Linked DNA regions of Homo sapiens: region 1 is linked to region 2. A link means that fine-mapping ties the variant in region 2 to the expression of a gene that starts in the linked region. Tissue or cell type: whole blood. Region 2 holds a variant in brackets; the other region holds the start of a gene. All regions are shown on one strand. Distances are between the middles of the regions. Region 1 holds the start of NPEPL1 (aminopeptidase like 1). Region 2 holds the start of LOC124904942.

Region 1 (15,990 bases), 26 kb before region 2:
GCCACATGGGCCCTGTGCCTAGTTTAGTGCTCAGCTGTTGCCATCTTGAAATTGCTTTTTGAAAGAGAGGCGCTGCGTTTTCGTTTTGCACTGGACTCCACAAATCATGCTGCCAGCCCTGGGGAGGGGGAGGTCTTTGCTGAAGAACACCAGGTAGTAAGTGTAGAAGGGAGGATAGAGCTGGAAAGTCACTCAACCAATACTTGATTCAGGCAGAAATCATCACTGGATACCAAAGACATTCAGGAATAGATGGTTGAGACCCAGACGGTTCTTAGTCTCAAAGTGTCACTCCATGGATTCTAAAGAGGAAATTATAATTCAATTAATTATAAAAGGGGGAAATGCACTTTTACCATGAAGAGATCTGGCAGACCCCACTTGCCCAATGATGGGGGACACTTAGTTTATGTGCCTCCTGATGAGGTTCGATGGGAACCATAACCCGTATTTTTGCCAAAAACGTTCAACCCAAATCTAAGAAAACAGACGAATCCAGATGGTGAGAGCTTCTGTAGGATATACCAGTGCATGAAAGACAAGGGTAAGGACTGTTCTGGATTAAAGGAGGCCAGAGAGGCTTCACAGCCAAACGCAATGCCTTATTTGGATTCTGGATTTAAAAAGAAAAAGCCATGAAGGACAAGGGGACGATTAAAGTTTCATTGCAGACTGTATACTGGATAATAGTATTGTTTCAATGTTAAATTTCATGGGTATGATCAGCATATGATCATGATTATGTTGGCTGGTGTCCTTGTTCTTTTTTTTTTTTTTTATACTTTAAGTTTTAGGGTACATGCGCACATTGTGCAGGTTAGTTACATATGTATACATGTGCCATGCTGGTGCGCTGCACCCACTAACTCGTCATCTAGCATTAGGTATATCTCCCAATGCTATCCCTCCCCCCTCCCGCCACCCCACAACCGTCCCCAGAGTGTGATATTCCCCTTCCTGTGTCCGTGTGATCTCATTGTTCAATTCCCACCTATGAGTGAGAATATGCGGTGTTTGGTTTTTTGTTCTTGCGATAGTTTACTGAGAATGATGATTTCCAATTTCATCCATGTCCCTACAAAGGACATGAACTCATCATTTTTTATGGCTGCATAGTATTCCATGGTGTATATGTGCCACATTTTCTTAATCCAGTCTATCATTGTTGGACATTTGGGTTGGTTCCAAGTCTTTGCTATTGTGAATAATGGCGCCATAAACATACGTGTGCATGTGTCTTTATAGCAGCATGATTTATAGTCCTTTGGGTATATACCCAGTAATGGGATGGCTGGGTCAAATGGTATTTCCAGTTCCAGATCCCTGAGGAATCGCCACACTGACTTCCACAATGGTTGAACTAGTTTACAGTCCCACCAACAGTGTAAAAGTGTTCCTATTTCTCCACATCCTCTCCAGCACCTGTTGTTTCCTGACTTTTTAATGATTGCCATTCTAACTGGTGTGAGATGGTATCTCATTGTGGTTTTGATTTGCATTTCTCTGATGGCCAGTGATGATGAGCATTTTTTCATGCGTTTTTTGGCTGCATAAATGTCTTCTTTTGAGAAGTGTCTGTTCATGTCCTTCACCCACTTTTTGATGGGGTTGTTTGTTTTTTTCTTGTAAATTTGTTTGAGTTCATTGTAGATTCTGGATATTAGCCCTTTGTCGGATGAGTAGGTTGCGAAAATTTTCTCCCATTTTGTAGGTTGCCTGTTCACTCTGATGGTAGTTTAATTCCTTTTTTTTTTTTTTTTTTTTTTCTGAGATGGAGTTTCACTCCTGTTGCCCAGGCTGGAGTGCAATGGCGCAATCTCGGCTCACTGCAACCTGCGCCTCCCAGGTTCAAGCGATTCTTCTGTCTCAGCCTCCCGAGTAGCTGGGATTACAGGTGCATGCCACCACGCCTGGCTGATTTTTGTGTTTTTAGTAGAGACGGGTTTTTGCCATGTTGGCCAGGCTGGTCTTGAACTCCTGACCTCAGGAGATCTGCCCGTCTTGGCCTCCCAAAGTGCTGGGATTACAGGCGTGAGCCACCACGCCCGGCTGGTGTCCTTGTTCTTAAGAGATACACAATGAGGTAGGGGTGTATACAACTTACTTTAAATGGTACAGGGAAAAATATGTGTACATACATACATATACATATACACATATACATATACATATATACATACACACACATACACATATACGCATGTTTGTGTATATAGAGGCATACCTCACTTTACTGTGGCGGTCTGGAACTGAACCCAGAATATCTCCGAGGTGTGCCTGTATGTGTGTATATATGTGTGTGTGTGTGTCTATGTGTGTGTGTGTCTATGTGTGTGTTTGTGTGTATGTGTGTGTCTGTGTGTGTATACATGTGTGTATGTGCGTATATATGTGTATGTGTGTGTGTGGTGTGTGTGGTGTGTGTGTGTGTGGTGTGTGTGTATGTGTGTGTGGTGTGTGCGTGTATGTGTGTGTGGTGTGTGTGTGGTGTGTGTGTGTGTGTATCTGTATATATATGTATGAATCTAGGTGAAGGGTATACAAGTGTTCATTATACTAGTTTTTCATCTTTTCCAAAAGTTAATGAACTTTTCAAAAAAGTTTCTAGAGAAATGTGTTTTCATGGCAACGAGTTCTCTTTCCTCCCTTCAGGGAACATTTAGTGCAAATCTAGGTGGCATGTCTGGTGCCAGTTGCAAAAGGCAACGGAGGCCCTCCCTGCTGTGCAGGCACTCAGGTTGCAGCAAGGGACAGCACAAACATCCACAACGCAGGGCAGCATTCAAGGCGGTCGTGCAGCTGTCACAGTTTTCACTGGTTGTGGGCTCACTTCTCAGCCAGCTGCTCAGGGAGGTCCTTGGAGCTGAGCCTGCCTCTGCTTCCTCTGGGCTCACGAGCAGGTCATTCTGAAGCAGGAAGGAGCCCTTCCTTGCTTCCACTTCAGGCCTGCCTGAGGCACTTCCACTGGTCTCCAGTTACTTGCAAGGTCAAGTACAACCTGCAAGGTCAGTATATATTTTATGCGCACTTTATATCTGGCACAGGAGCTTTTCTTTTTCTTTCTTTTTTTTTTGTAGAGACAGAGTCTCTGTCCTGCAGATTGGAGTGCAGTGGCGTGATCTCGGCTCACTGCAACTTCCGCTTCCCAGGTTCAAGTGATTCTCATGCCTCAGCCTCCCGAGTAGCTGGGATTACAGGCATGCACCACCATGCCCAGCTTATTTTTGTAGTTTTAGTAGAGATGGGTTTTCACCATGTTGGCCAGGCTGGTCTCAAACTCCTGGCCTCAAGTGATCCACCTGCCTCAGCCTCCCAAAGTGTTGGGATTACAGGCCTGAGCCACGGGGCCTGGTTCCACATGAGCTTTTGACAGTGCCAGAATGAACCATGTCCTTTACTACTTCAGGCCTTTGCATGAACAATTCCTTGGTCAGGGATCAGACTGCCTGACACACTTTAACCGATCCCTCCAGGCCCAACTCAAAAGTCTCATCGTAGTCCAAGGGGCCTTCCCTAACTCAATCTTCTCCCAGTGACTGGATCTCTGGATTTTACTGTTCTACTTGCTTCCCCTTCCTCCTCCTGGCCACACACACATATGCGTGCACATGCACAAACACACACACACACACACACGCTATTGCGTCCCCAAAGCCTCACGGGTCCTGTAGCTTTTCAGAACTGATGTTCAACAAATGTATGTCAAATGAATGAATGAATGAAAATGCTAGAAAATACGAAGCAGATGCACCGAGGAAATGTTTCTTTGAAGTATCGGATATAATGGAATCTGAGAGCCTCGTGGCAATCAGCTGAGTCTAAGCAGGCATTAGGTTTTATAGGGGTGAAGTCTGACATGAAATTAACATATAAATGTAGATTTCAAACACCTAGAGCCATCTTACAAGATAGGATTTCAGAAATGTGTCCTAGAATGTGAACTGTACCAAAAAACATCCTAGTAAGTTCTAGGAGCTTTATTCTGATTTGTCCCAGAAGTTTTTAATCTTTTCTTCAACTTTGGAGCAAAGTCTGAACATCCAATTGAATGTGGAATAGGTTTCAAGCCATCAAAAACATAAGTTGATTTTTGGGTTGCATTAAAGATCTGGTAATTTGTTTTAAACTTTCATTTTTTAAGGAAAATTAAATAGAGTTGAATTTTTCATTGACAGTGAAATATATAGTAAGCCATGGATTAATACCTTCATAAAAATTTATCTAAACAAAGTGCTGCCTGTCTTATTTATGTTAAAGTCTGTAAAGTCAGCAGTGAAAAAGGGAAAGTACTTTCCTGGAATGTATTTGTATCTGTCACAAGCTGAATCTTGAGGAAATTGGCAGGCATTTGAAGTGGAATAATTCCTTAGCGTTCTGTTTAGTTTGGATTTCTTCAATTCGGGGGTGGCTTAAAACCAGAATCACCAATATTTGCTTTTAACAAGCATCTAACGTTTTCTCTTGCTTTGTGTACACTAAGTGCTCAACAAATGTTGGTTGAATTGAATCATTTTGTTCATCCTTTCTGGGGACTGTCAGGGTTATTCAGTCTATTCTTAAATATGAAAGAATTCTAAAAGAAAAACATCTCCAAAATGACCTCTCCACCAACAGTTTATCTCATTTCCAACTCCTTGTACACAAACCTGCTAGATCTGGCTTTCTGAAATGCTTCTTGGATCCCTCTTCAGTTTGCAAAATTCTATAGAGTGAGCCAGGCTCCCCAGTCGATCTCCTCACCCACTCCTATTTTCCAGGAACCTTCTGTTCTAACCACACAGGTTTCAGAGCCTGCTGGACATATTCTGCGTCTGTGTTTCCTCCCAGGACTTCTCCCACGTGGAAGGCCTTCTTTCTCAATCTCTTCGCCTGTGGAAGTCCTATTACATCTGTCAGGGCATGGCCTTAGTCTCTCACCCTCTAGGAAGATCCTCCAGCTGTCTCAGTCCTCTGGAGTGCCGTGTGCCTGTCTGCAACGTATTTGCAAACAGAAAAAAGAGTGAGAGATCTTCATACACACTGTTAGTACCCTTTACCAATGTGTGAAAACATTCAGCTGCTGTAAAATCTTTTGAAGAAAATAAGATCCAATTAGCGTTGACTTTTATGTCGGGAAAGCTGAGGGTTTCAAAGGAATGCCTTTCAGTCATTCAACAGCTTTTTTTTTTTTTTTTTTTTTTTTTTTTTTTTTTTTTGAGTGCCTGCTCTGTGCCAGGAACTGGAGGAAAAAAAAACAACAAAAAGTCAAAAAGACCTGCCTTCAGGATGCTGAAGCTCTAGTCTGTGGTGTTTCCAAGGGGCCAGGGACCATGGCTCAGAGCTGAGCAGACAGACCTGGAGCCTGTGGACAGGGAAGGTGAAAGCCTGGCTTGTGGCTCCCGGGGCTACAAGTTAGGGAGCTAGGGGGCCAGCTGGGAGGTCAGTGGTGGAAAACCTCTCACACCACGCCAGGGAGTTGACAGTGCTTTTTTTTCTTTTTTTCTTTTCTTTTTTTTTTTTTTTTTTTTTCATTTTTAGGCTGGTTATGAAGAAGAAACTCAAAATAACAGGAGTGGCTTATGGAACTACATGGAGGTAACAGAGGAGGGTACCAACCAAAGGCCCTTGAGCAATCAGGATGTTGGGTAACAGATTTTTGCTTTTAAATGACTCCTGGGTGGAGCTTCCCCAATGCATCGTCATTCCCTGACCCTTGCATCTGACCCTGTGGGTGGGACCCTCCGCCTCCACCATCCACTCAAGGCTCACCCCTGGCTCCTCCACCACCCGGCTCCTGCCCCACACCCCCGATGGCCTTTCCTCCCCTGTAAGGCGACTGAGGTGACTCAGGTCACCCTGCTCCTTCCTCGTCTCATCTCGTCCCTCCTTTCCTGCTTAGACTGTGCCAGATGACCCTTCTTGCAAAGGGGTGGGCGGGAAGGCCCCCCATGCAGCCAGGCAGTGCCTGGATTTGTAACTGGCCATCCCAGCAGCAGTGCCCTGGATGGAAAGCCACGTCCCTGTCACCCTCTCACATCCAGGGCAGTGCCTGGCAGAGCGGGGTCTGATAAACGCCAGGGAACCTCCGATTAAGTGAGGAGGAAGTGACCGTCCACGCTGTACCCACCATGCCAGGCAGTGGGACAAAAGGACCTGACTCAGGTCCAAGAGTCACTGGGCCCCTCCGGCCTAACTGATGGGTGGCCAGGGTGCGGGGTCCCTGGGGATCAAAAGCAGCTGCTAAGGGACCTCGGGGGACCTGCTTGGGGCCAGCCTGAGGCCTGACCGGGCGGAACTGCGTCGGGTGGGCTTGGGCCTACGTCGGCCCAGGCCCCACTGGAGGCCAGGCCCGTCCGGGAGGCGCTGCCTGGCGGGCCACGTCGCCCCGCGTGTTGGGCAGGGCCGCTAGGCCCAGGGGCGGCGCCGCTGGAGGCCGGGCGCGCGGGCCCTACTCGGCAGGGCCTGCTCGGGGCCGGCTTCGGGCCTGCCCGGCCGGGCCTGCCCGCACCCTTCCGCCCGGCCTGGCCGGCGCCCCCTCGCGCCCCGGGCGGGCCCTGCACGTCTCGCGAGCAGCCCGGAGCGGCGGGGGAGGCGGGGCCCGCGGGCTGCCGGGCAGGGCCGGGGCGGTGCCGAGGCCGGGCCGGAGCGGGGCGAAGGGGGCCGAGCGGCGGGCCGGGCCGGGCCGGGCAGGGCCGGGGCGTGGGCCGGCAGGAAGATGGCGAACGTGGGGCTGCAGTTCCAGGCGAGCGCGGGGGACTCGGACCCACAGAGCCGGCCCCTGCTGCTGCTCGGGCAGCTGCACCACCTGCACCGCGTGCCCTGGAGCCACGTCCGCGGGAAGCTGCAGCCCCGGGTCACCGAGGAGGTGAGCGGGCCGCCGGCCGCCATGCGACCCGCGCCGCGGAAGCCCAGGCCCGGGCGGCCCGCGGAGGCCCCGCCTCGCCCGCCGCACCCCCGCCGCCGCCGGGCCGGGCCCAACGAGGCCGGGCCGCCTCCCTGAAGGGCTCAGCCGCCAGGCCAGTCCTCGCCCGCGGAGGCCCAGCCCCAGGCCCCGTCGCCGGTGCGGCGCGGTGGTCCTCCTGTCAGCCCAGCCCTGCGCCCCGCGAGGCCGCGACACCTGCGGACGGCGGGGGGGGAGACGTGGCCGCTCCCAGGGCCGCGCGTCGGCCCCGCCTGGCGACAGGCCCTGGCTTCCAGAAGTTCCCATGGCAGTGTCCCCAGCTGCCTTTCCTTGGGGACACCTGGCCCCTGCCCCCTCTCTGGTGGAAGCCGCCTAAGCCCTATCCGAGTGTTGGAAGCAAAGCAGCCCCCAGCCTGGCCCTTCCAGGCTTGGTGGCTTCATCCCACCAGGGGGATGCGAGCCAGCCTAGAGACAGTTAGCTCTGCAGAGAGGCGACACATCTCCCTAAGGATGGGAAAACGGTGGCCGGGAGCTGCGCAGTGCCCTTCCAGGACTGCAGGAGTGGTTGTGGCCGTGGCTGCAGGGCAGGGCCTCCTGGCACGTGGCCGCTGTTTGAAGCCTCTGTGTCTTGTCTCTCCCTTCTGATCTAGCTCTGGCAGGCTGCCCTGAGCACGCTCAACCCCAACCCCACGGACAGCTGTCCCCTCTACCTGAACTACGCCACCGTGGCTGCCCTGCCCTGCAGGGTGAGCCGGCACAACAGCCCCTCGGCCGCCCACTTCATCACGCGGCTGGTGCGGACCTGCCTGCCGCCCGGAGCGCATCGCTGCATTGTGGTGAGTGCTTCGAGAGGAGGCAGCCACGGTGCTCCTAGTCGGGCAGCGGTGAGCTCGGGCCTGGGGAGCTCACAGCCCTGCTCAGACTGCAGCGCACGCCCAGAGGGCTGTGGACGTTATCATCCCTGCTCTGTAGACAGGGAAACAGGTCCAGAGAGACGCGGGGATTTGCCCCAGATCAGTTTTGGTGGCAAATCAGAGACTCAAACCTAGATTTCCTGAGGCCCACTTTGTGTCTGTCCCTCTGTCCCTCATTTTCATGGCTGGTCAGGCTGTTGACATCTGGTGGCCAATGTGTTATTTCTCTTGGAGCATGACCAATGGTGGTCCCATGGTTCCGGGGATGACCTGAGGGATGGGGTGGCGGCTGCTGTGGGACATCTCTGTCTAGATGTCACCTGCCAGGGAGCTGATGTTCCGGAGGCGTTCAAAGAGCAGCTCCCTGCACTCCCTGGTGGCGGCCCTTGCACCCCTCACGCCGTCTCCCTATGTGCCACAGATGGTCTGCGAGCAGCCGGAGGTCTTTGCTTCCGCCTGTGCCCTGGCCCGGGCCTTCCCGCTGTTCACCCACCGCTCAGGTGCCTCTCGGCGCTTGGAGAAGAAGACGGTCACCGTGGAGTTTTTCCTGGTGGGACAAGACAACGGGCCGGTGGAGGTGTCCACATTGCAGGTGGGTGTCTGGAAGGGCAGACACTGCCCCTGGGCCCGGGCAAGATCGGGCAGGTGGGAGGGAGGTCGGGAGAGGGAAAAGCTTGTTGCGGGGGCAGGAGGGGGTTCCTGCCCTTCCCAGGAGCTTTGGTTCCTGGGAAGCGGCAGAGGCTTTTCCAAACCCAGGCCCCCTGCCTCTGCCTCAGCGTGGTCTGTGACTTCAGGATTCTGTTGTATACAGGCAGTGTTTGTTGAGCACGTAATCAGTGCCAGGAACGTCCATGCTGTTTTCCAAATAACCCTGCCCGTTTATGTGAGCTCCGTGTGCACGTGTGTGATGTATGCACGTGTGTGTGTATGTGCGTGCACATGTGTGTTGCTGTGCGTGTATGAGTGTATGTGCATGTGTTGTATGTGTGGGGGGTGTGTGTGTGCATGTGTGATGTGTGTGTGTGTGTGGTATGTGTTGCTGTGTATGTTTGCTGGTGTGTGCATGAGTGGTGTGTGTGGTGTACGTGTGGTATGTGTTGCTGTGTGTGTGTGTTTGCTGGTGTGTGCATGAGTGGTGTGTGTGTGTGGTGTGCATGTGTGGTGTGTGCATGTGTGGTGTGTGTTGTTGTGTGTGAGTACTGGTGTGTGCATGAGCAGCATGTGTTGCTGTGTGTATGAGTGCTGGTGTGTGCATGAGTGGTGTGTGTGTGTGTTGTGTGTGTTGCTGTGTGTGTATGAGTGCTAGTGTGTGCATGAGTGGTGTGTGTGTGGTGTGTGTGCATGTGTGTTGCTGCACCCTTTACAGGGAGCACTTCTACATGTGTTATTTCACTCAATGCTGAGAATGATCCTTTTGAGGCTGCAAGGCCGGAAGTGATTTCCCAGCTCCAGATCCTTGGATGGGCCTGACATCAGGCTCCTGTCCCCACGGCAGCGGTCCCAGCCTCTGCGCCTGCCACCTCCAGTCCCCGAGCCCACAGCGCCACCCAGGTTGTCTTTTCTCATGTGTCAGCGCTCATTCTTCACTTCTGGCTCTGGAAGGCTGTCGCCTTCACCCAGGCAAGCTCTCCCACATCAGCACTTGGGCCACACCTCATTTCTTTCACTGTGTGCTCTCTGAGGCCTGTAACCACTGCCCCTCAACCCAAATTCTTCCATCTTCACCAGCATGAGATAGCTCCCCTTTTTTCCCTTCGTCTCTGAGCTTTTAAAAAAGTCTAACTGGTTTGCCTTGCTTAATCCTCTTTTCCCTCTTAACCCATGGAGACAGAGTTTTTGCCCCCATCCTGACATTGTTTTCTAAGGACTGCTGGATGGGGTGTTGCCGTCCCTCCTTGAAGTGCATCTGCCCCATCCAGAGGTCTCCCTCCCTCCCGCTGCTCCCCAGACTGCTGCCACCTCTCGGCATCCCCTTCATGGCCTCTCCAGCGTTCCGACCTGCTCAGCCCTCTCCGGGTCAGACACCAGCATCTGCCTCTTCTCTCTGTCTTTAGGGATTTTCTTCTGACTTCCAGGCCTGCCATCCAGGTGGGCACGGGTGCCCGCAGAGCCCACCGGGGGCTCAAGCATCACCCTTATTTCCGAGGACAGCAGGGCACCCTGACCTCTGCTGCCCTCAGTCCCTTCCCCTCCTGTGGACTTCCTGCTGTCCCTTAGACTGGCCACGCCCACTCCTGCTCTTGCTCCTCTGCAGGGGTCCTTCCCTCTCCAGCCCAGCATGGTCTCCATCCAGCCTCTGCCCACATTCCCTCCCCAGGGAGGCCTGGCCCTCTTGGCTAGCACCACCCTCCCATTTGTCAGCTAAACCATCACTACTAGACATGTCACATCTTTGTTGATCTCCTGTGCTCCTCACTGGGTTGGGAGTCCCCAGAGGGCAGGGACCTGGTCTTGTGCACAGTGATCCCAGCACCCGACCCCACACATGAAAAAGGCCCAGTAAACATCTGGTGATGGAACCAGTGGGGGCAGTCAGTCCCCATGGCCCCCGACCCCATTGGTCCCAACTAGCTAGTGTGTCCTGTTTCTTGTCTTTGCTCTGCCCAGTGCCGTGCCTTGAGGTGCTCTCCTGGGCTGTGGCAGCAGTCTCCTGGTCACCCTGCCACAGATGGCCTCCTTCCAGCTCCTGCGTCACTCGCCTTCCAAAGGCACATCTGGGTGTGTGCAAGGTGGCATCTTCTGAGTGCTGTCAGCTGTCAGGCCCTGCGCTGAGGCAGGAGTGTGCACACAGCACGTGCTGGTGCACTGAATTCTCACTACAGCCCTGTGAGATACATCCTGTTGTCCCCACGACATTGAGTGGCTCACCGGGGCCACGGCAGCAAGGGGCAGAGCCAGGTGTTAAGCTGCAGCTGCCACCACTCAGCCCTCTTGGGTCCTGAGCACACCATCATCTGACACCCACGTGGCCTGTACTCAGCTTCTCCCTTTTCTTCCCTGCGGGAACCTTCCAGTCCCCACCCAGGACCCTGTCCCCTCTGCATCCTGTGGCCTCATCCTCTTCTGTAGCAGGGACTGGGACTGTGTACTGTGAGTCTCTGCTGAGCTTGACTCCCTTGGACGTCTCTGAATTCTCAGAGTCTTGCACGATGCCTGGCACATGTGGACAGAATGAGTGGTCCTCCTCTCATGGTAAGGGACACCCTTCCCCAGTGCAGCATGGCTGTGTGTTGGTGGAGGGCACCCGCAGCCCTGCCCTCCCTCCCACAGGAGCGCTCTTGCGTCAGAGCCCCGAGCTCGCCGTGGTCTGGGGTCTTCCAGGTGACACCTGGCCTCCTTGGAGGCAAGTCACACAGCATTGACGCACTTCTCAGACAGTCCTTGTCGAGTCCCCACATGCCCTCACAGACAGAGAACCCGCTGACAGGCGGCAGGGACGGCTCAGGCACATTCATATCAGAGCTGTCAAGGTCCAGGTTTCTACCTTTGAGGCTTTGGGGTTTAATTACCTCGGCAGGGCGGGGGAGGTGGCCAGGCTGCAGTATCGACCCGGCGCCTGCTGCCCTGACATTATGAGACTAGAGGCAGGGATGATAAACTTGCTGCTGTCCTGCACCCCCGCAAAACAGCGCTGCTCTTCTCTTAATATTGTCTTTCTGGTGAGCAAGGGAGGCCGTGCAAGCAGCCAGCTGTCTGAAGCTTCTGTGCCTGGGGATGCACAGTGGGGAACAGGGTGGGGAAGGGGTGCCCGCAGATTCAGCTGAGAGAGAGTGAAGCTCCCAGGGCAGATGTGAGACACACATGAGAAGGCAAAGAATGGCCCAAGCCAGGGCTGAAGGACACATTTTTGGGACCCACGTGATGTGTGCTTTGGTGCATGTGCCCCTCTCTGCCCTGCCTTCGAGTGTGGGCTCTGAAGCCCTGCCAGGCCAGCAGGGCCCATGTTTTCAGTTCCTGGGTGGACACGTCAGTTCCATGAGGCGAGACCTCCCTCTGTGTCCTTCCCCTCCGTGCCCAGAACCGTGCTGTGTCAAGTGACAGCACTAGGGCAGCCAGACCCCCATCTGTCTTGCAGGGTTTATGAGGGACTTGCGTGGGACTCATGAGGAAAGCAACGGCCCAGAGGGAAGGCGTCTGGGAGGGCCAGCAGGTTCAAGCACTCAGGATGTAGAGTGCTTCTGCTTGGTGGGGAGGATCTGGAAAAGCTACTGGTAGATACGGCCTATGAGAAGTGCCTCGAAGGATGACTGGGATCTTGGTGGGAGGGAAAGGACTGTGGGATCTGCAGAGGTGAGGCGTGGGAAGCTCAGGGCATACTCAGGGGCTGGCATGAGGGCCACCTACCTTCAGTTGTAGCTGGAATCAGGGGAGAAACAGGACACAGGGCTTGGAAAAGATCCAGATACAGAAGGGCAGGACCCCAGGCTGGGGACTCCTGTATATTTGTGGAGGCGCAGGGTGGTGGCTGTGCTGAAGGTTCTTTCTACAGGTGGCCGGTGGCCCTGGGTTGCTGGGGGTGGGGCAGGCAGCGAGAGCCATGGTCCCCCTCTCCCCTCTCTTTGCTGCCCTGTCAGTAGCCCTGTGGGTGATGTTTGCCTCTGCTGCCTTTTGTTCCTGGGGGATGGACAAGGGGAGAACATCTGCCTCCCACCTGGTCCCCAGTGATGGCCTTTTTCTCCCTAGTGCTTAGCGAATGCCACAGACGGCGTGCGGCTAGCAGCCCGCATCGTGGACACACCCTGCAATGAGATGAACACCGACACCTTCCTCGAGGTTTGTGGCGTCATCAGGCCGGGGGTGGGACCAGGCTGGGGTGGGTGTCATAGACTCCCAGGAGAGCCAGAGGAAACCTGGGGCTGTCCACACCCTGACGTGGCCAGGGAACCTCAGGGCTGCCCTCGGCGGAGCGCTGCTGTCTGCCGGGCTCCAGGAAGCCTCAGGAAAGGGTGTGTGGGGAGGACAGAGCCTCCTCTTCAAGGCCCCTTGGCAGGACCACAGCCAGAGCTACAGGAAATGAGAGTGTGTGGAGGGTGAGCCCCCTCTTCTGGGTTTCATCACACGCGAAGCTGGCTCCCAAGCCCGGCTCCCCGACGCGGCACAGGCAGCGGTTCATCCCTGGCCCCAGCCTCGGCCTCTCCTGTTTCCAGCCATCTTCATGTGTTGTTGTGCTGTTGTTTTTTCCATGAACATGTCCAGGAGATTAACAAAGTTGGAAAGGAGCTGGGGATCATCCCAACCATCATCCGGGATGAGGAACTGAAGACGAGAGGATTTGGAGGTGGGTGGGGGCTGCATCCCTGCAGCTCTTGGCCTCGGGCAGTGGCCAGGGGCACTTGGGTGGCAGGGGGTCGGCGGGCCACATGGCACATTGTCCCAAACTTCATCCTGCTTGTGACCTGAAAGGAATCAGCCTGTGTCCAAGCCCAGTGCCGGACCCTGGGAAGCAGCCGTCCCTGGGGGAGAAGGGGAGGCAATCCAGATTCTGATTTGGATTCTGGAAGCTGCTAGATCCAAGTCCTTCCCTGCCTGCAGCCTCTCCAGCGTCCTCGCGTGCTGCACACCCTTACTCCTGGGACTGGCTCAGCAGGGCCTTTCTGTTCCTTGAATACACAAGTTCCCATCACGGCAGGCAGGGCCTGTGTGCGGATGGCTCTCCCTATCTGGAATACTTTCCCCCAAGATATATTTTTGGTGGAGGCCATCTCAACCAATGCCCCCTCCTCAGAGAGGCCTTCCCCAAGTCCCCAGACCCACCTTTCCCCACTGCCCAGGAACCAGAGGGGCAGATAAGTATGACTCAGCTGCCCCGTGGTGCTTGTAGACTGGCAAGAGGAAGGCGGCTGTCTGTGTTATGTGTGGCTACAAAACAAATCACTCGGAAGATAGCAGCTGAATGCAGCAACACTTATCCCCTCCCCGTGCTGTGGGTTGGGGATCTTCCCCTGGTGCAGCGTCTCTGCCTGCTGTTGTCAGGTTGTTGGCTGGGGCTGCAGTCATCTGAGGGCTTGCCTGGGGCTGGCGATGTGCTTCCGGGCAGGCTCACAACAGGCTGCTGGCAGGTCTCAGGGCCTCACAGGCCATTAGCTGGAGGCAGCAGGTCCTTGCTGTTTGAGCCACCCTCCGAGCAAGGTCTCTGAGCGAGAGATAGGGATAAAGAGCGAGCAAACAAGATGGAAACTCCCATCTTTTTCTGTGACCTAATCCCAGGAGTGATATCTCATCACTTCTACCTTTTTCTTTTGGTTAGAGGTGAGACATCAGGACCTGCTCACATGAGGGGGAGGGACTGCACAAGGACATGAATACCCAGACGTGGGGGCCACAGGGGCCATCCTGGTGGTGTCTACCTAGACAGGAGCCATTTACAAGTGGAGGGAGAGGCCGCTTGTGTCAGGAAAAGCTTCACAGAGGAGGTGGCATTTGCTGTGGATCTTACAGGATGAGTTGGAGTTTGTCAGGCAGCCATGATTAGCTCTCGTCATTGTTGCTATGATTGTTTGACTCAATTATTGCAGGACTTTGAGCCATAGACTCTGCACACGCACAGGCCACAGCTTTCTTGAGAAGATGTGTCATGTAAACCAAAGAGGCAGTGGTGCAGGGACTGTGGGAGCGAGTGTGAAAGGGCGGTGCAGTCCCTGAGTGCTCAAAGGATTCAGGAAGTGGGGACGAGCATGGGCTGGGGCAGCCTTGAGGTGTTATCCAAACATCGTTTCATTCTGCAATCCTGTTCTTTTCTTTCTGGAAAGGATACAATATTTTTTTCCCTTAGTGGGTTTTCTTGCTTAACAAACAACACTTTGCATAGAATTTGTTTGCAATCTCAGACATTGGAGCTAATTTGCATTCCCCAATCCCACACTGGCCAGGGGCAGGAGAAGGGGCAGGGAGCACCAGGCTCAGGCAGGCGGCTCTCCAGGAGAAACACCAGCCGGCCAGAGTTTCCAGGGGCCTCTGGGAGTTCCCCGCTCAGCTCAGCCCGAGCCTAACCCAGTTCTCCCCACGCTTTCCATAGGAATCTATGGGGTTGGCAAAGCCGCCCTGCATCCCCCAGCCCTGGCCGTCCTCAGCCACACCCCAGATGGAGCCACGCAGACCATCGCCTGGGTGGGCAAAGGCATCGTCTATGACACTGGAGGCCTCAGCATCAAAGGGAAGGTGAGGTGCGGGCTGGCTCTCAGGGTGCCCTGGGGGAGGGGAGGGGAAGGTGAGGTGCAGGGCCCGGCTCTCCCGGGTGCCCTGGGGGTGGGGTGGGGTGGGGTGGGGAGGGGAAGGTGAGGTGTGGGCCCGGCTCTCCAGGGTGCCCTGGGGTTGGGGTGGGGTGGGGTGGGGAGGGGAAGGTGAGGTGCCGGCAGGCTCTCCAGGGTGCCCTGGGGGGGGGGGAGGGGCCCAGTTTGGGTCCAGCCAGCCCTCTGAGAGGTGTCATGGGGTGGGGGGCGGCGAGGTTTCTGGGGGTTCTGGGTTGGGGTGGGTTCGGGGAGAGTGCGCAGGGCGGGTTCCCATGTGCTGAGGCGACAGCTTCACGTGGCTCCCTGGGTTTCATGCCCACCCTTCAGAAGGGTCTGGAAACAAAAGCCTGGCCAGGGCCCAAGAGCAGCCCCGGAAATGACGGAAGAAATGGCAAGCAGGGCCAGGGAGGCAGGGCTTGCTGCTTGGGGGCTTTGTCCCGAGAAGAGAAGGGCAAGGGGACGCCTGTGTCTCTGAGTCTGCCCATGGTCCCCACTGAGAAAACGCTCAGAGTGGCCACACAAGACCCTCCAAAGGCACGTGACCCCCAAGAGCGAGGGGAATCTGGGCACGGCACAGAAGCGAGTCACCCGGGAACATCCCGGTGCGGTGGCCCTAGAAGCCTGTCCCGTGGTACGGCTTTCTGTCCTGCCATCCCAGGAGGACAGGTGCTTGTGGAGCCCCCGTCGTGGCCGAGTCTGCCCGCCCCAGCAAGCCCTGCCCTCCTCCGCACCATCTCCATCCATTCATCCTACACACCGTGTGAGCAGCCTCTGTGCTCAGGCCTGGGCTGGGAAGGACAGGGAGGGAGCAGACTGGGAAGTACATACCTCAGGAGGTCTGGAAGGAGCAGGGAGTGCATCCGCAGCAGACACTGCAAACTAGCAGCCTGCAAGGCTCACGGAGGCCTGGCATTTTTAAAATTTGAATTAGCTACCAATATTTGAAACCAGGAAGGATTCTCATCAA
Region 2 (15,990 bases):
ACGAGGCTGAGCTCTTCCTGCCCCTCTGTGTGTGTACGTGTGTGTGTGTGTGTATTGAGGGGACGCGGCTGCTGGCCACCTTCTGTCGGCACAGGTTGGCGAGGCTTCATGACTGCCCAGCCCATGCAGTCCAAGAGTCCCACAGCCCAGCCCATGCCCAGGCTCATCCACTGCGGCGGGTGGCCTCTGCCAGGGGAGGCTAGGAAACCCCAGTGGTGAGCCTTGGCCTTGGGATCTGCCAGGACTGTACCCGGGATGGCAGGGAGGGCGAGCTTTGGTCCCTGCAACTTGGAGCCATCTCTCTCTCTCCTGCTGTCTGTGGGTCTGAGAACCCCCAGCTCGTCCTCCCCCCTCCCCAAACCTATGACCTACAACTGGAGCCTCTGCCCACTTCTCCCTCCAGGGTTTCAAAGACAACCTCCACGCTGTGTTCTGCTTGGCTGAGAACTCGGTGGGGCCCAATGCGACAAGGCCAGATGACATCCACCTGCTGTACTCAGGGAAGTACGTCTGGCCCTCCCACTCCTTCCTGCCCACTGTTGGAACTCGCGACCCTTCCCGGCCTGCAATGCCAGCTCACTCCAGGCATATCGGGAGGGCACTCAGCGTTGGGGTCCCCTGGGCAGCAGGCTCCTTGCTTCCCGGAGGGCTGGGGAGCTTTGGTAGCAGGCGCACCTCACGTTGAGGGGCCCATGGCACCTGGATGAGGTGCTAGGCTCCCGTGCAGTGCCTGGCCCAGGAGCTCGTGGTCTACCCTGCATTACCAGGACAGGTCTTTCCAAAATTTAGGCCTGAAATCTTTGGGTGTGTGAAGCTCTGACCCCCAGATTCCCTGCTCGGGGACACCTCCTGCATCTCCCCCTTGAGATTGACCCTGGAAAGTCAAAGCTGAGCTGGCAGCTGAGGAGCAAGTGGCTCCAGAATTCAAAAGAGAAGAGCCCTCTCCCCAGCCCCATGAGCTGGTGCCTGAGTGGGCGCCTCCCCGCATCTCCTGCTCTTCCTCCCCATCTGCCGGGTGCCAGGCACAGTGTGCTGAAGGCCAGCCCAGCCGGTTCATGCCACCCACTTTACAGAAGAAGAAACTGAGGCATGGGAGAGCCAAATGGCTGGTCTCTGGCTCTCCAGAGCAGCGGGGCAGGGATGTCACCTGGAAGCCCTTTGCTCCAGGCACTGCATTGCTGTAGGGACTGGGGGCATCCCGGCCTTCCCATTCAGGGAACGTGTTGGGGTTCGGGGAGCCACAGGGATGGGCAGCTCCAAATGGGGTCTCCCCAGTTTCAAAGGGGCTCATGCCAGTGTCCCAGGAAATCCCGTCCCTGAGCGGGGATCTCTACCATGCCCCAGGACGGTGGAAATCAACAACACGGATGCCGAGGGCAGGCTGGTGCTGGCAGATGGCGTGTCCTATGCTTGCAAGGACCTGGGGGCCGACATCATCCTGGACATGGCCACCCTGACCGGGGCTCAGGTGAGTGCTCCCTGGATCCACCCCTTAGCTGTAGTCCCAGGGAACCCCACCCCACTCTTGACCTCAAGGTGGGGAAGGCAGCGCGTGGGGGCTGCCGTCAGGAAGTTTTCATAACTGGGCACGAGGAGGCAGGAGGAGCTGCCCGTCAAGCTTGGTGTGGGCAGTACCGAGGCCCAGGCTGGATGCAGAGCCGGGAACCGCCTCCTGTGTGCTTCATGGCCATGGTCCTTTCTGCCTGTGTTTTTTCTTTTTTTCTCAACCGTCTCTTTTCTGGCTCCCTTATTTCTCTGTCTGCCTCCCGGTCCCTCTTTTGCCTTGGGTGTTTCTCTCCTGCCGTCCCGTCCACACGCTTCCCGGGTTCCTGCCCGCCCAGGGCATTGCCACAGGGAAGTACCACGCCGCGGTGCTCACCAACAGCGCTGAGTGGGAGGCCGCCTGTGTGAAGGCGGGCAGGAAGTGTGGGGACCTGGTGCACCCGCTGGTCTACTGCCCCGAGCTGCACTTCAGCGAGTTCACCTCAGCTGTGGCGGACATGAAGAACTCAGTGGCGGTAGGTTTGGAGCCTCGAACCTGGAGCCTGCCACATGGGTGGAGCCGGGCAGGCGGAGCCCTGCCTTCAGGGTGCTGGTGCACCCAGGGAGCTGGGGCCCCCCAGAAGCAGCCACAGTGCAGACGAGGGCTTGAGAGGCAGGCGTCAGGGCACAGGAGTCATCCCAGACAGCGTGGGCCACTCACTGGCTTCCCTGCCACACAGCCAAGGGTTTCTCCCCCAGTCTTGGGTCTGGCTCAGTTGCCCCATCAGGCCCTTTGCTGGCTTCCCCCTTGGCCTATGGTGGGGGCAGACTCCTTAGCTCATGGTCAAGGCCCTCCCAGCCCAGCTTCTGCTGCCTCCCCACACGCTCCCTCCCAGCCACCCCGAGCTCCTTGCAGACAGCAATAGTGACAGGCGATGGGGCAGGGTGGAGAGGGCCCGGCCGGAGCAACCCACAGGCACTGTGTCCTCCTGGCCTCCCTAGGACCGAGACAACAGCCCCAGCTCCTGTGCTGGCCTCTTCATCGCCTCACACATCGGCTTCGACTGGCCCGGAGTCTGGGTCCACCTGGACATTGCTGCACCGGTGCATGCTGTGAGTGTCTCCCCTCCCCACTGGCCCTGGCTGCTCCCGCCCGCTTGTCCAAACAGCGCCCCTCTGGCTCTGGAGCTGCTGGCAGAGCTCATCAGAAACTTCTGTCTGTGACCCAGCTTCCAGCCCGCTGTCCCCACCACCCCCAGGTCTCATCCTCCCTGGGAACAGAGTGGCTGCTGTGTGCGACCCTTCCCCAGCCAGCCTGTCCTCCATAGGGGATCCTGGGCCCTGTCTCACCCATCCCCACCCTGAGGAGCTCCCGGGGTGAAGGCAGAGCACACAGGGCCTTGCCCCCTGCCTACGCCTGGCCTGCCAGCCCTGAACGTGTCCAGCCAGCAGCATGGAAGGCTCTGGGCTCCGGCTGGTGCTCAGGATCTCCTTCCTGAGAAGGGGACTGTGGGGCACGTGGAGGGGACCCAGGAGGTGAGGGGTCCCCAGGAACCCCTCCTGTGCTGCAGCCCCACGCCCAGAGTCTGTGTCCTGCCCTTTGCTTGCAGGGTGAGCGAGCCACAGGCTTCGGTGTGGCCCTCCTGCTGGCGCTCTTCGGCCGTGCCTCTGAGGACCCTCTGCTGAACCTGGTGTCCCCACTGGGCTGTGAGGTGGATGTCGAGGAGGGGGACCTGGGGAGGGACTCCAAGAGACGCAGGCTTGTGTGAGCCTCCTGCCTCGGCCCTGACAAACGGGGATCTTTTACCTCACTTTGCACTGATTAATTTTAAGCAATTGAAAGATTGCCCTTCATATGGGTTTTGGTTTGTCTTTCTGGTCGTCAGCGTGGTGGTGGAAACAGCTGAAGTTTTAGGAGACAGCTTAGGGTTTGGTGCGGGCCACGGGGAGGGGACCGGGAAGCGCTGGGGCTTGTTTCTGTTTGTTACTTACAGGACTGAGACATCTTCTGTAAACTGCTACCCCTGGGGCCTTCTGCACCCCGGGGTGAGGCCTCCTGCCTGCCTGGTGCCCTGTCCCAGCCCCAGGTCCTGTGCAGGGCACCTGCGTGGCTGACAGCCAGGCTCTTACTCCAGCCGGGGCTGCCAGCGCATCCAGCCAGCCCAGCCCTGTGAAAGATGGAGCTGACTTGCTGCAGGGGACCTGATTTATAGGGCAAGAGAAGTCACACTCCGGCCTCTCAGAATTCACTTGAGGTTCAATTAAATACAGTCACACCGCCCCCTCACCTGGCCTCGTTCTTCTTTCTCCCCCTCCATTTTAGAAACGGGTCCTGGAGCCCATCTAGGGAATGTAGTGCAGGGCTGCCTCCTGCTTCTCCCAGACCGGCTCTGGCTTTGAGCCCCAGCTGGTCAACCCAGTGTTGATGACAGGAGCCCAGGACCTGGGGAGGACAGGGGGCCGCTGGGCCTAGGCCTGGCCTTCCTGACCATTTTGATTTTCTGGGTGCACACAGCACAGACTCCAGGTGGAAGTGCTGTGGGCTCCTGAACTCTCTACAGCCCGGCAGCCTGCACGGAGGCCGTTCTGTCTCTCGAGGGTCCTGGAGCCTGCGCTGTGTGAGGTCGACTGTGCTTCCGTGCCCCTGGGCACTGTCCTAGGTGATAAAGGGCAGGGCCCCGAAGCCAATTCGGATCTCCCGGGAGCCCCGCCAGGATTCAGGGAACCCCTGAACCTGGGCTCCAGGAAAAGCAGGTGAGGCGGGTCCAAGGCACCCAGGAGCCAGGCTCCCACTGGCTTGGGTGACAGTACAGGCCAGGACCTTGTCCCTGCCATACATCCCCTTTGCTGTCAGTCGCAGCAGGGCTGCCTGGGGCCCCCCAGGAAGGGATTGGGTCTGAGGCCCCACAGGGAAGGGGACAGTGCCCACCTCTCTTCAGCTAGGGCCGAGGGTGAGGACCTGGCTGCAGATCTGTGGGACACGTGGCCCTAGGCTGTGTCCTGAGCCCCTGGCCACCCCACCCCAAGGGTCCCCAGAATCCATGTGCCCCCACAGCCCTGGAAATCAAGGTGACTTTCTGGGCCTGATCGCAAGCAAATATTTATTAACTGCCTGCTGTGTACACAGCCCCGGCTGGGCCTGAAAAGGCAAGAACTGGCTCCAAGGTCCTGGCCCTGTCTGAGGAAACTGTCACCCAACACAATGACAGCAATTGTGGGCAGCAGCCGGGGAGACGGAGCCGGAGCTCCTGAGCAGGGGCGGCTGCAGCCGGGGTTAGGAGCCTTCACGGGTCATTAGCTTGCTTAATGGTGCTGCAGTAGGCCCCGCTTGCCGGCCTCCCCTGAGACACCCAGAAGAGGCAGAGGTCCTGAGGTGGCTGGCTCCTTCTCCAGGGCAGCTGGCACCGTCTGCTCCTGCTACCAGGGGTGCGCCCGCATGGACACAGGATGCAGGGTCAGGGAGCAGGGGAGGAACTGAGTCTCCCTTGTGCAGGCACAAAGGCGGCCTCAGGACCAGGGACCCAGCTGGGCACCAGCTGCTGGCTGGCCTGGCCTGCCTGCCGGCGTCGGGGGGCCCACGGGGGTGAGCCAGAGGCCTGGCTTTCCCTGGGGCCAAAGGGCTCTAGGAGGCAACGGCTGCTTCCCCAGGCCCCACCAGAGCCCTGGCAACAGGGTCATGGGGCGGCTGGCGGTGCTGGGGGGCAGGTGGGTGCTCTGGGTCCACTTGATCATGGTTTCCGGGGAGCAGTGCAGGAAGACGAGCTTGGTGCAGAGCCCCCACAGGCAGGCTAGCGCACAGCCCCAAGGAAGTGCTCCCAGATGAACTTGGCCGAGAGCATCACCATGGCCACGCCAAGTAGGCGGGGCTAGGACCCCACCCACACCCCCTCCCTGGAATCCCAGGGCCCACCTGGGTGATGTTATCCCAGAGACAGGGACAAGAGATGAGAGGATGGAAATGTCTCTGGGAAAAAGGCTGCAGGAGCTGGAGGTGATGAGCAGAGCAGGCGAAGGAAAGGGAGGCCCCTCCTCCCTCCATGTTAGAGAAGGGAGCCCTAGATCTGGCCACCAGCGGCCTGTGCACACCTGGGGCTGAGGGCACACAGGGCTGCACATACACACTCAAGGCCACTGTGAGAACAGGTGAGCAGGGCCAGAGGGCTATGGAAAGCCCGGCTGAAGGCTGCACCTCCAGGCTGAAGAGAGCTTTACCGGCATCCGCCAGGAAGCCTGGGCTCTGGGGCTGTGTCATTGTAGATGACCATTTCCAGGTCGTGGCCACAGCCCCGGTTCTGGTCACAGCTGGGCCACCAATCCTCCTGCGCCACCCACCACTTAGCCATCGGGCCGTCTTCAGGGCATCGGCCGGCCTCAGCTGCTGCAGCCAGACCCTGGCGTTGCGGAAGGCTGGCCAGTCCACATCCTGCAGCCTACGAGGGTGCGCTGTGTGAGGGGTACAGGCCCCGGCCTGGGAGAGGACCCAGATGCAGGCCCCCAGAACTGATGGAAAATCTCTCCCCAGAGGTCAGGTCTTTGTCAGCAAAGGTGGGAAACCAGGGGAGCGGCGGCACCAGGCTCCAGAGACATTTGAAATGACTTCAGAAGACCCAGGGCCACTCAGGGTGACCACATCGGACAGCTGCCTCCCACAGGCTGTGACGGATGTTTAAGCAAGGGATCGATGGTCACCTGACTCTCAGGAGTGCAGGAGAGGCCACTGAGACCCATTCAGAAGGGACTGGGTGTTGGTCCCTGTGGACTCGGCCTCTGGCTGGTGGTGAGGAGGAGGATTTCTCACCACCCATCCTCTGGCCCCTGCTGCCCAAGGGAGCAGACTCCTGTGAGCTGGGTTCCGGGAAGTCCGTCTCCAGCAGGAACTCCAGGCCAAGCGCGCATCTCTGTGATCGTGTGTCACCATGGCGGTGCGTGCGTGAGTGCATGCGTGTGCACTGGTCTGTGGCCTGTGGTGCGTGAGTTCCACTAGGACCCATGTGAGGTGGAGGGTCTTCCACCTCCCCTCCCATTCGGGCCCTCCCTGTGCCACACAGACACCCATCTGTGCCTTCCCCTTCTGTGCCACCAAAAATGGAAGAGATAGACACTTAAAAGAAGCAACTCAAATGGAATGAAATCGTTTCTGTTGGGGAATGCTCAAGACGTTCAATCATCTTAGAAAATCCCACCCCACCTCCCGCTGCAGATTAATTACTGTAAGTGCAACTCCAATCGGGCTGGTGACCCCCCAGGAAACCTCTGAAGCTGTCCCAGGCTGTTCCCAACATGGGACCTCCACTCTGGCACACCAGGACCCGAGGCCCCTGACAGGCTCCTCGTTCCTGCCTCGCTCAAGGCTCAGGTCCCCCACCTGAAATACCCCCTCCCACCAGCATCTCCTGCCTCGCTCCTGCTGCCAGGTCCCCAAAAGCTCTTGTTCATGAGCTCGCCTGCCATCCACAGCCCCCACCAGAACCCAAGTGGCTGTGGAATTCGCTGCCCTGATTCTCTGCCCAGAGCCTCGGTCCAGACTGTGTTCCCTGGCGAATTAGTGTTCAGCATTTTTGTTTATTTGTTTGTTCTTTAACAAAAGTTGTTTTGGTTTGAGATTCAGCAAAAATACACACTGCATTCAGCTTCCTCTCCATTCAGGATTCAGTAAATTGGTTGTTTTCCTGTCTGCTTCGAGTCCTTGCCTCAAATGAGCCTTCAACAAGATAATGCATTGAAAAGCCCTTGGAAAAGTACCAGGCCCCGCGCACATGTACAGCCCAGGCCCCACGCACATGGACGGCATTGTCATCATGCAGCTCTCGGAGGCAAGGCCAGCAGCACACAAAGCTCCCACCTCACCCACATTAGGCTCAGCTTCTGGGGAACATTGGCCCAGGCGGGGGTCCTTCCCCACGGCCTCACAAATAGGGCTCAGGAGGGGTGGGGCTGCCTTCATGCAACCCTGCTGCTAGGCTGGTCCCCAAAGCCCAGACCTGTGCCCCTCCCCATGGCCTGGGCTTGCTTTCTTCCCTTGCACAGGGCCAAGGGGACAAGGATGCAGCAGATGAGATGCTAACACACCCTCAGGGAGGTGACAGTCCTTCCTGACATCCAACCGATGGGCCATCTTTGCTTTCAGTGCCTGCTGGAGTCCCGAGGGCTTTGGGGATCAGTCCAGGCAGCATTCTGCAGTCAGGAAAACAACATTGAAAACCAAAACCCACAATTACAAAGCATAGAAGCCTGGTTTACGTTCACCGATGGCACAGTTAGAACCCACGGCAGCCTCCAGCTGAAACGATCTGTTCCCATTGGCTGCATAAGAAACTCAGTGATGTCATGGACCCCTTTGCCTCCCTTAAATCAGTTTAGCAGTTACCCCAACTTCACAACCGTGAGTTCTTTTGAGGGCCTGAGACCCCCCTTTCTCCTAATGAGTTGGATAAGTTTCTGTGGCATCCATGACCCAGCTTGTTCCAGTGCATGAAGGCCCAAAGCCAGCTTCCTTGTCCAACAATATTTGCTAAACACTACTGGCATGCAGTCCCTGAAAAGCAGATCCCTCCTGCAGGTGTGTCTTCCCAGCCTGCAAGTGGAACGGCTTCCGGAAGGAGGAGCCGGCACGGCCCTGCAGGAAGCTGGAGGAGGGCTGTGCCCCTGGCACCCACAGGGGCGGGGGTGACTGAGGACTCCCCCCTGCCCCATCGGGGTGTTATTAGCCATTACCAGAAGAGCTAATGTGTCATCAGCAATTTGCCACATGCAAGGCAGCCCCTGGGAGGTGCTGTTATCTTCCCCCCTATTCCAGCAGGTGCAGAAGCCCCAGGTCGCACAGGTTGTTTGTGAAAGGGAAGGGGGCATCCAAACCCCGATGGCCCAGCAGATTCACGTATGCTGGCTGATGAAGGTGGGAGGGAGGGAGGGAAGTGAATAAATAGAAGGCCGGACAGAGACATACAGCCAGGCCAAAAGGACTCATTACTGTTGAATATCCCAGACTCATTACTGTTGAATACCCCGGGCCTCGGTCTCCTCATCTGTAAAATGGATGGGCCTTGCAAAACAAAAACCTTCATGACTTTG[G/T]ATTTGTCATTGATTTCTTGGCTATGACACCAAAGGCACAGGCAGCAAAAGAAAAAATAGACAAATTGGACTTCATGCAAATTAAGAAATTTTGCACATCAAAAGACAGTATTCACAGAGTAAAAAGGCAACCCACACAATGGGAAAAACATTTACAAATCATATACCTGATAAGGCATTGATATTCAGAATATAAAAACTCCTAAAGTGCAACAACAACAATAAAAGAATCTGATTCAAAAACACTCAAAGGACGCTTCAATAGATAAAAAAGGACACAAATGGCTCAAAAGCACAGGAAAAGATGCTCGGCATCACCGTCATTCAAAAAATAGAAATTAAAACCCCGGTGAGAAACCACGCTGCACTCATTAGGAGGGCCACTATCACAAAAACAGAAAATAACAGGTGTTGGTAAAAATGTAGGGGAATCACAACGCTGGCGCACGGCCGGTGGGAATGGAAAATGGGTCAGGTGCTGTGAAAAACAGTATGGCGGTTCCTCAAAAGATTACAAATAGAATGACCACGCGATGCAGCAACTCCACTTCGGGGTATACACCCCAAAGAATTGAAAGCAGGGCCTCGAAGAGATATTTGCACACTCAGGTTCACAGAAGCATTATTCACAATCGCTCAAATGTGGATGCAACCCAAATACCCATCAGTGGATGAACAAGTAATAATCAAATGTCACAAATACAAGGTGTGGATGTTCAGCCTTAAAAAGGAAGTTCCAACACAGGCTACACCGTGGATGAACCTTGAGGAATTATGCTAAGTCAAATAAGCCAGTCACAAAAACACAAATACTGTAGGATTCCACTTTTACGAGGTAAGTTAGAGCAGTCAAAATCATAGAGACAGAAAGTAGGAGGCTGGTTGCCAGGGGCTGAAGGGAGGGGGGAATGAGCAGTTAGTGTTGAACGGGGATAGAATTTCCATTTTACGAGATGAAAGGGGTCGTGGAGATGATGGTGGTGCGGGTTGTACATTATGAATGCACTTAATGCCACTTGACTATACATTCAGAAATGGGGAAGATGGCAGATTTTATGTTACGTGTATTTTACCACAATAAAAAGATAATACATTTTAAAAAATATAGATGGGCCCTGGACTCCTCTGGCCACCTGTGCCCCGGGAGGCAGGATGGGTCCGTGTGCCATGCCCAGGTCAGCAGAACTGGGCTCAAATCCCGACTCTGCCACTTTTGTAGCTTTGAGTCCTGGCGTCAGTCAGCCAGATTCTTCACCTGTGCAAGGGGGACATATGTCCATGAAAGTGCCATGTAAATGGGCAAAAGACGACTCCTTTGCTCACGTGGTAAACCCCACCCTGCAACAGTTGTGCTCGGCAGAAAACCCTCTGTGCCAGGGCACTGCTGGAGCAAGGAGGGGCTCCTACAGGCTCTCTCGGGTGTGCGTGAGCGTGCAGGCCAGTGGGTCTCGTGTTTCCTTATCCACGTAGTATACCACGTGCTCGCTGGCTACTTCCACATTCATGACCAGAGACTCATTCCTGAATTGGGGAAGGAAAAGCCAAGTGCAGATCCGGAGAAACAAAGGTAGCCCCAGATGCTCGGGCCCAGCTTCCTTCCCCATCCCAGTCTGCACCCTGCACCCTCTGCCCTCTCAGCTCGGCTTCCTCCATCCAATCTTCGCTTGGCCCTGAAAATTCCAGGCAGAATAGACACACATGGCTCCTGCCCACTCCTGTGCAAACTCGTGGGCCCCCGAAGGAAGACATGGTATCTTCCTATGGCTGGGAGATGTCGCAGTCCCATTTCCTCCCCATGCTATAAATAAACGACTCACAGACAGCAGTTCTAGGCAGAGGGAATGGTGTCAGGGAACACTGCAGGCCCCCACCTCCCCTCCGTGTGTAGTTTTGTATTCACTCATTCATTCAATGAACATTCATTGTGCTCCTGCTCTGTGTCAGGTGCTGAGAGACGAAGTTGAGGAGAGATGGCCCCTGCCCTCCCAGGGTTCACAGTCCCGCCAGGAGGACAGGTGCTCATCACAGTATTACCCAAAGAAATACACCACAAACTGGGATGACTGCCGTGAAGTATGGGCAGGTGGTGTGATGAGGACATTTTAAAGGGAGGCCTGTCCTTGCTTGGGGAGGGGACCAGGTAGGGAACGCCTCCCTGGAGGTATAGATACATGAGCTGAGAGTGCAAGGATGTGAGTACTCAATGGTGCAGAAGATGGGAGAAATCAGTTCCAGTGCAGGGTGCAGCATGTGCAAAAGCCCAGGCTGGAGTGGGCTGTGACAAGTTACAGAAATGCAAAGGAGGCCACTGCTGCTGAAAAGGAGAGGGGGGCACGGGGATGGGGGAGTGAGATGGGGTGGGAGAGGTGGACACAGGCCTTGCAGGTCACGAGAGAGTGCTGTGTGAATATGACCATTTCCCTGAGGACGCCCCAGTCCTCAGCACGGGGTGGCTGGAATTCCCACAGAGAGCCACAGGCTTACTGGCTTGAGAGTGAGGGAGTGGAATTTGGGCTGTCAGAGCCCAGGGAAGTCCCAGGGATGGGGGGAAGTGAGAATGTCCTGCAAGGCAAGAGACAGAGCACCCTGAAGCTCGGTCTGACTCCTGTTTCTGGTCATGGTAGAGCTGCAGGGGCTGCATTTAACTACTGCTTTAGATGAGTTAGAAAGCCAGACAAATCTATAGAAAGCATTGTTTCAGACACAAGAAACATGCAGCCCCAGAGTGATGCCTGCGAGAAATGGAACAAATGAGATGCGCCTCCAACCAGCCCAGCTCCCTGCCTGGGGAGAGTTTCCAGGTGTGGCCCAGGGAGGAGAAACCCAAGCCAAGCCCAGGCAGGTGGCCTCCATGAGCTCAAGGGACAGAGTTGAACATCCAGGATGGCCAAGGCAGCTGGAGTTTGCTGGACACAGAACTCGGAAGAAGAGAGTGGCACAGAGAGAAAGGAATCCAGAGACGGGCAGGGGGTTCCCCTGAGTCTTCATGGAGTACTGAGTACTCCTCAGCACATGTGAGGAGGACACTACCCCAAGCTAGGGAAGGAACCATCCTAAGGTGCAGAGGGGACAAGGACCACTCACACAGCACCCAAACAGGCCACATTCCCAAGAGGCAGGAGCACAGCAAAGGCTTTGAGGTCTGAACTGCCATATACAACAGCACTCAAGCTCCAGGCTCACCTCTGAGCAGCGCATGCACTGGTCACCTGCAAGTCACACAGCCAAAGCTCTTAAGAGAGAACTAACATCTGAACCACCGCTCATGGGAGAGAAAGAATGTGCAGTGTGAATTTCACTGGATTCATTGCCCGCTAAAGAGGAGGAGGAGGAGGAGGAGGAGGAGGAGGAGGAAGAGTTGGATGATGAGGAGTGGGGGAAGGAGGAGAGAAGGAAGAGGAAGAAGAAGAAGAGAAAGGTAGAAAAGAAGGAGAAATAAATTAGCATTCTCCAGAAGATTTAAACAGGATCCAGTCTTCTAACATACAAAAACTACAAGTCCAGGATGAAAACCCAACATTATTTGACATACCAAGAATCAGGAAAATCTGACCAATTCTTAAGAGAAAATACAATCAAAAGATGCCAATCCTGAGATGACCCTGATGCTGGAATTGTCGGATGAAGACTTCAGAGAAATGATTATAACTATCCTTCACGAAGTAAAACTTAAAAACATTGAAATGGATGGAAAAATAGGAGTTTGACAAAGAAAAACTATAAAAAAGAACCACTAAATGTGATGTGGTATCCTAGAACAAAAAAGGACATTAATGTAAAAACTGGTGAAATCTAAGTGGAATCTGGAGTTTGGTTGGTAGGAACCTACCAATGTTGGCCTGTTGGTTTTGACAAACATTCTATGGTATGTTAATGTAAGATGTCAAAATTAGGGAAAACCGGGTGAGAAGTAAATGGAAATGCTCTGTGTTTTATCTTGGCAACTTTTCCGTAAATGGAAAATTATTACAAAATAAAAAGTCTAAAGAATCAATATGGCAGAAGAAAGAGCCAGTAAACTTGAATATAGATCAATAGAAATTATTCTAACTGAAGAACTGACAGAACAAAAAGATTTCAAAATATGAGTGCCTCAGGGACTTGTTAGACAATATCGAAACATCTAATACTCTTATAATTGGAATCCCTAAGAGAAGACAGATTGGTGGAGATAAATATTTTTTGAAAAGAATGATAGCAGAACCTTTCCAAATATGGGAAAAGACATAAATTTACAGGTTCAAGAAGTTTAGAGCACTCCAAACAGGATGAAATCAAAAAAATGCACACCCAAACACATCATAATCAGATTACTGAAAACCAAAGATAAAGAAAAATCTAAAAAGCAGCCAGAGAAAAAACATACCTACCGCAGTGATAAACAATGACTGAAGATTAACCAGAAAACATGGTTGTCAGAAGACATGGGAACACATCTTTAAAAACATGAAACAAAAGAACTGTCAACTCAGAATTCTACATAGAGCAAAAATTGTCAAGAATGAAAGCAAAAAAAAAAAAAAAAAAAAGACACACTCTGAGGAAGAAGAAAAGACTTAAAGAATCCGGCCAGGTGCGGTGGCTCACGCCTGTAATCCCAGCACTTTGGGAGGCTGAGGTGGGTGGATCACGAGATCAGGAGATCGAGACCATCCTGGTCAACACGGTGAAACCCCGTCTCTACTAAAAATACAAAAAATTAGCCGGGCGTGGTGGCAGGTGCCTGTAGTCCCAGCTACTCGGGAGGCTGAGGCAGGAGAATGGCGTGAACCCAGGAGGCGGAGCTTGCAGAGGGCCGAGATCACGCCACTGCACTCCAGCCTGGGCGACAGAGACTCTGTCTCAAAAAAAAACAAAAAACACCAGTAGACCTACTCTAAAAGAAAGGATGTTGTTCAGACAAAGGAATTACACCGGTATAAGACTTGGAACTTCAGGAATGAAGGAAGAACAACAGAAAAGGTAAATATCTGGTAAATATAATGGGTTACTTTTCTTCTCCAAAGTACCTAAAATGTATATAAGCTATAAAAAGCAAATATTATAACATTATCAAGGGCATTAAATGTATGTAGATTTAATACTTATGACAATTATAACAGAGGAGTTAAAAGTATAACATAAAGAGGGTAAAGTATGACACAGAGAAGGTAAAGATAACCACATAGTTATAAGCCTTCTATATTTTACATGCTACGATGAAATACTAACTCTAAATAGATTATGAAAAGTTAGGTATGTATATAATGCCTAAAGCAGCAACTAAAAAGTAATGCAAAGAGATACAGCAATAAAAGCCAATAAATAAAATAAATAGAATATTAAAAATATTCACATAATTCAAAAGAAGCCAGAAAAAGGAACATAGAAAACAATGAGAAAATAGAAAAATAATAAAATGGTAGACCTAAATGTAACTATATCAATAATGACATTAAATTGAAACAATCTAAATATAGCAATGAAAAAAATTGTCACATTGGATTGAAAAAAAAAAAAAAAACAGGATCCAATCATATGCTACATGATATGGTTTGGCTGTGTCCCCACCAAAATCTCATCTTGAATTCCCAGATGTTATGGGAGCAACCCAGTGGGACGTAATTGAATCATGGGGGCAGGCCTTTCCTGCGCTATTCTCATGATAGTGAATTACTCTCATGAGATCTGATGGTTTTGAGAAACAGGAGTCTCCCTACACAAGCTCTCTCTTTGCCTGCTGCCATCCATGTAAGACATGATTTGCTCCTCCTTGCCTTGTGCCATGACTGTGAGGCTTTCCCAGCCATGTGGAACTGTAAGTCCAATTAAACTTCTTTCTTTTGTAAATTGCCCAGTCTCAGATATGTCTTTATCAGCCACATGAAAACAGACTAATACACTATATATAAGAAATACACTTTAAATATAATTGTATAGACTGGAAATTAGTAAACTATGGCTCAGAGGGCAAATGCAGCCCATGGCCTGTTTTTAAGAATGGTTTTTACATTTCTTAAGGGTCGTGAAGAAGAAAAGGAGGGGAAGAAAGAGGTAATAGAAACCATATATAGCCACAAAACCTAAAATATTTACTATTAATAACTGGCCCTTTGCAGAAAAACGTTTGCTGGCCCCTCAATTGATAGATTAAAAGTAAAAGGATAAAAATGATATACCAAGCAAATACTCATCAAAACAAAGCAGAAGTGGCTATGTTACTATCAGATAAATAAGACTTCAGAGCAACAAAAAATTACCAGGTACAAATAGGGGTGTTACATAATAATAAAATAATCAATTCACCAAGAAGATGTAACAGTCCTAAACAGTAGATTCCCCAATGACAGAACTTCAAACGATATGACACAAAAACTGATAGAACTAAAAGAAGAAATCCACAGTTATGTTTGGAGACTTCATCACTTCTTTCTCAGTATAGAATACATAGATGGAAATTCAGCACAAATTTAGAAGACCTGAATAACACTGTCAACTTGACCTAACTGATGTTTATCAGCCACTTCAGCCAACAGTAATGGAACATGTATTCTTTTCAAGTACAAATGGAACATTCACCAAAATAGATCATATTCTGGGCCATTAAAAGCTTAACAACCTTAAAAGAATTAAAAATTATATGATGTATAGTCTCTGACCATCAAGGACTTAAACTAGAAATCGACAACAGAAGGATATCTGGAAAATTCACAAACATTTGGAAATTACACAACATACCTCTAAATAATTTGTGTGTCAAACAGAAAGTGCCAAACAAATGATCTAAGATTATACTTTAAGAAACCAGAAAAAGAACAAATTAAACCCAAAGAAAATAGAATAAAAGAAATGATAACGATAAGGGCAGAAATTCGTATACTGAAAACAGAAAAATAGAAAAATAAATTAAACCAAATGTTAGGTTTTTGAAAATATTTAATACACTTGATAACTCTCTAGGGAGACTGACTGCAATAAATAGAGAAAAGACACAAATTATAAATATCAGAAATAAAAAAGGAGATACCACTACAGACACTACAGATATTAAAAGAATAACAAGGTGATACTATGAAGAATGCTACCCATAAATTAACAATCTATATAAAATGATGGATTCATTGAAAGACACAAAACACCAAAATTCACCCAAGAAGAAAGTGTTAACCTGATATGCCTTTGTACTAAAGAAATTGAATTCTTATTTTAAGACATTCCAATACACAAAACTCCAGGCCCAGATGCTTTCATAGGCAAATCCCACTAAACATTTAATGATGTAATAATATCAATTATATCCAAGCTCTTTCAGAAAATAAGAGAGCACTTTCTAACTCACTTAATGAGGCCAACATTATCCTTCCTGATATCAAAAACAAAGACCTTAGAAGGAAACTAAAGGTCGATAACTCATACACATCTGCACAAAAATCCTCAACAAAGTAGTGGTAAGTCAAA

Evidence for each region. PIP is the estimated chance that this variant, and not a neighbour inherited with it, causes the effect.
Region 1: NPEPL1 starts here. The variant in region 2 is fine-mapped to the expression of NPEPL1 in whole blood (TOPMed, PIP above 0.99).

Annotation. Positions count from the first base shown.
Region 1 is chr20:58,686,207-58,702,196 of GRCh38, forward strand. It overlaps NPEPL1 (aminopeptidase like 1), which reads left to right and starts at 6,594. Exons shown (of 12, transcript NM_024663.4): 1 at 6,594-6,844; 2 at 7,531-7,716; 3 at 8,216-8,386; 4 at 12,478-12,567; 5 at 12,991-13,072; 6 at 14,810-14,952. The coding sequence starts at 6,695. STX16-NPEPL1 (STX16-NPEPL1 readthrough (NMD candidate)) reads left to right here. Exons shown (of 23, transcript NR_037945.1): 9 at 4,828-5,021; 10 at 5,199-5,356; 11 at 5,518-5,574; 12 at 7,531-7,716; 13 at 8,216-8,386; 14 at 12,478-12,567; 15 at 12,991-13,072; 16 at 14,810-14,952. RefSeq lists enhancers at 6,027-6,732, 8,173-8,780, 15,295-15,827, 15,828-15,990 and silencers at 6,230-6,719, 6,730-6,889, 6,920-6,999, 7,020-7,109.
Region 2 is chr20:58,712,076-58,728,065 of GRCh38, forward strand. It overlaps NPEPL1 (aminopeptidase like 1), which reads left to right. Exons shown (of 12, transcript NM_024663.4): 8 at 404-504; 9 at 1,345-1,468; 10 at 1,842-2,018; 11 at 2,485-2,595; 12 at 3,093-3,769. The coding sequence ends at 3,251. LOC124904942 reads left to right here and starts at 5,520. Exons shown (of 2, transcript XM_047440632.1): 1 at 5,520-5,920; 2 at 6,005-7,156. The coding sequence starts at 5,520. The coding sequence ends at 6,152. STX16-NPEPL1 (STX16-NPEPL1 readthrough (NMD candidate)) reads left to right here. Exons shown (of 23, transcript NR_037945.1): 19 at 404-504; 20 at 1,345-1,468; 21 at 1,842-2,018; 22 at 2,485-2,595; 23 at 3,093-3,769. RefSeq lists an enhancer at 3,104-3,911. The variant G/T (reference allele first, on the strand shown) is at 8,554.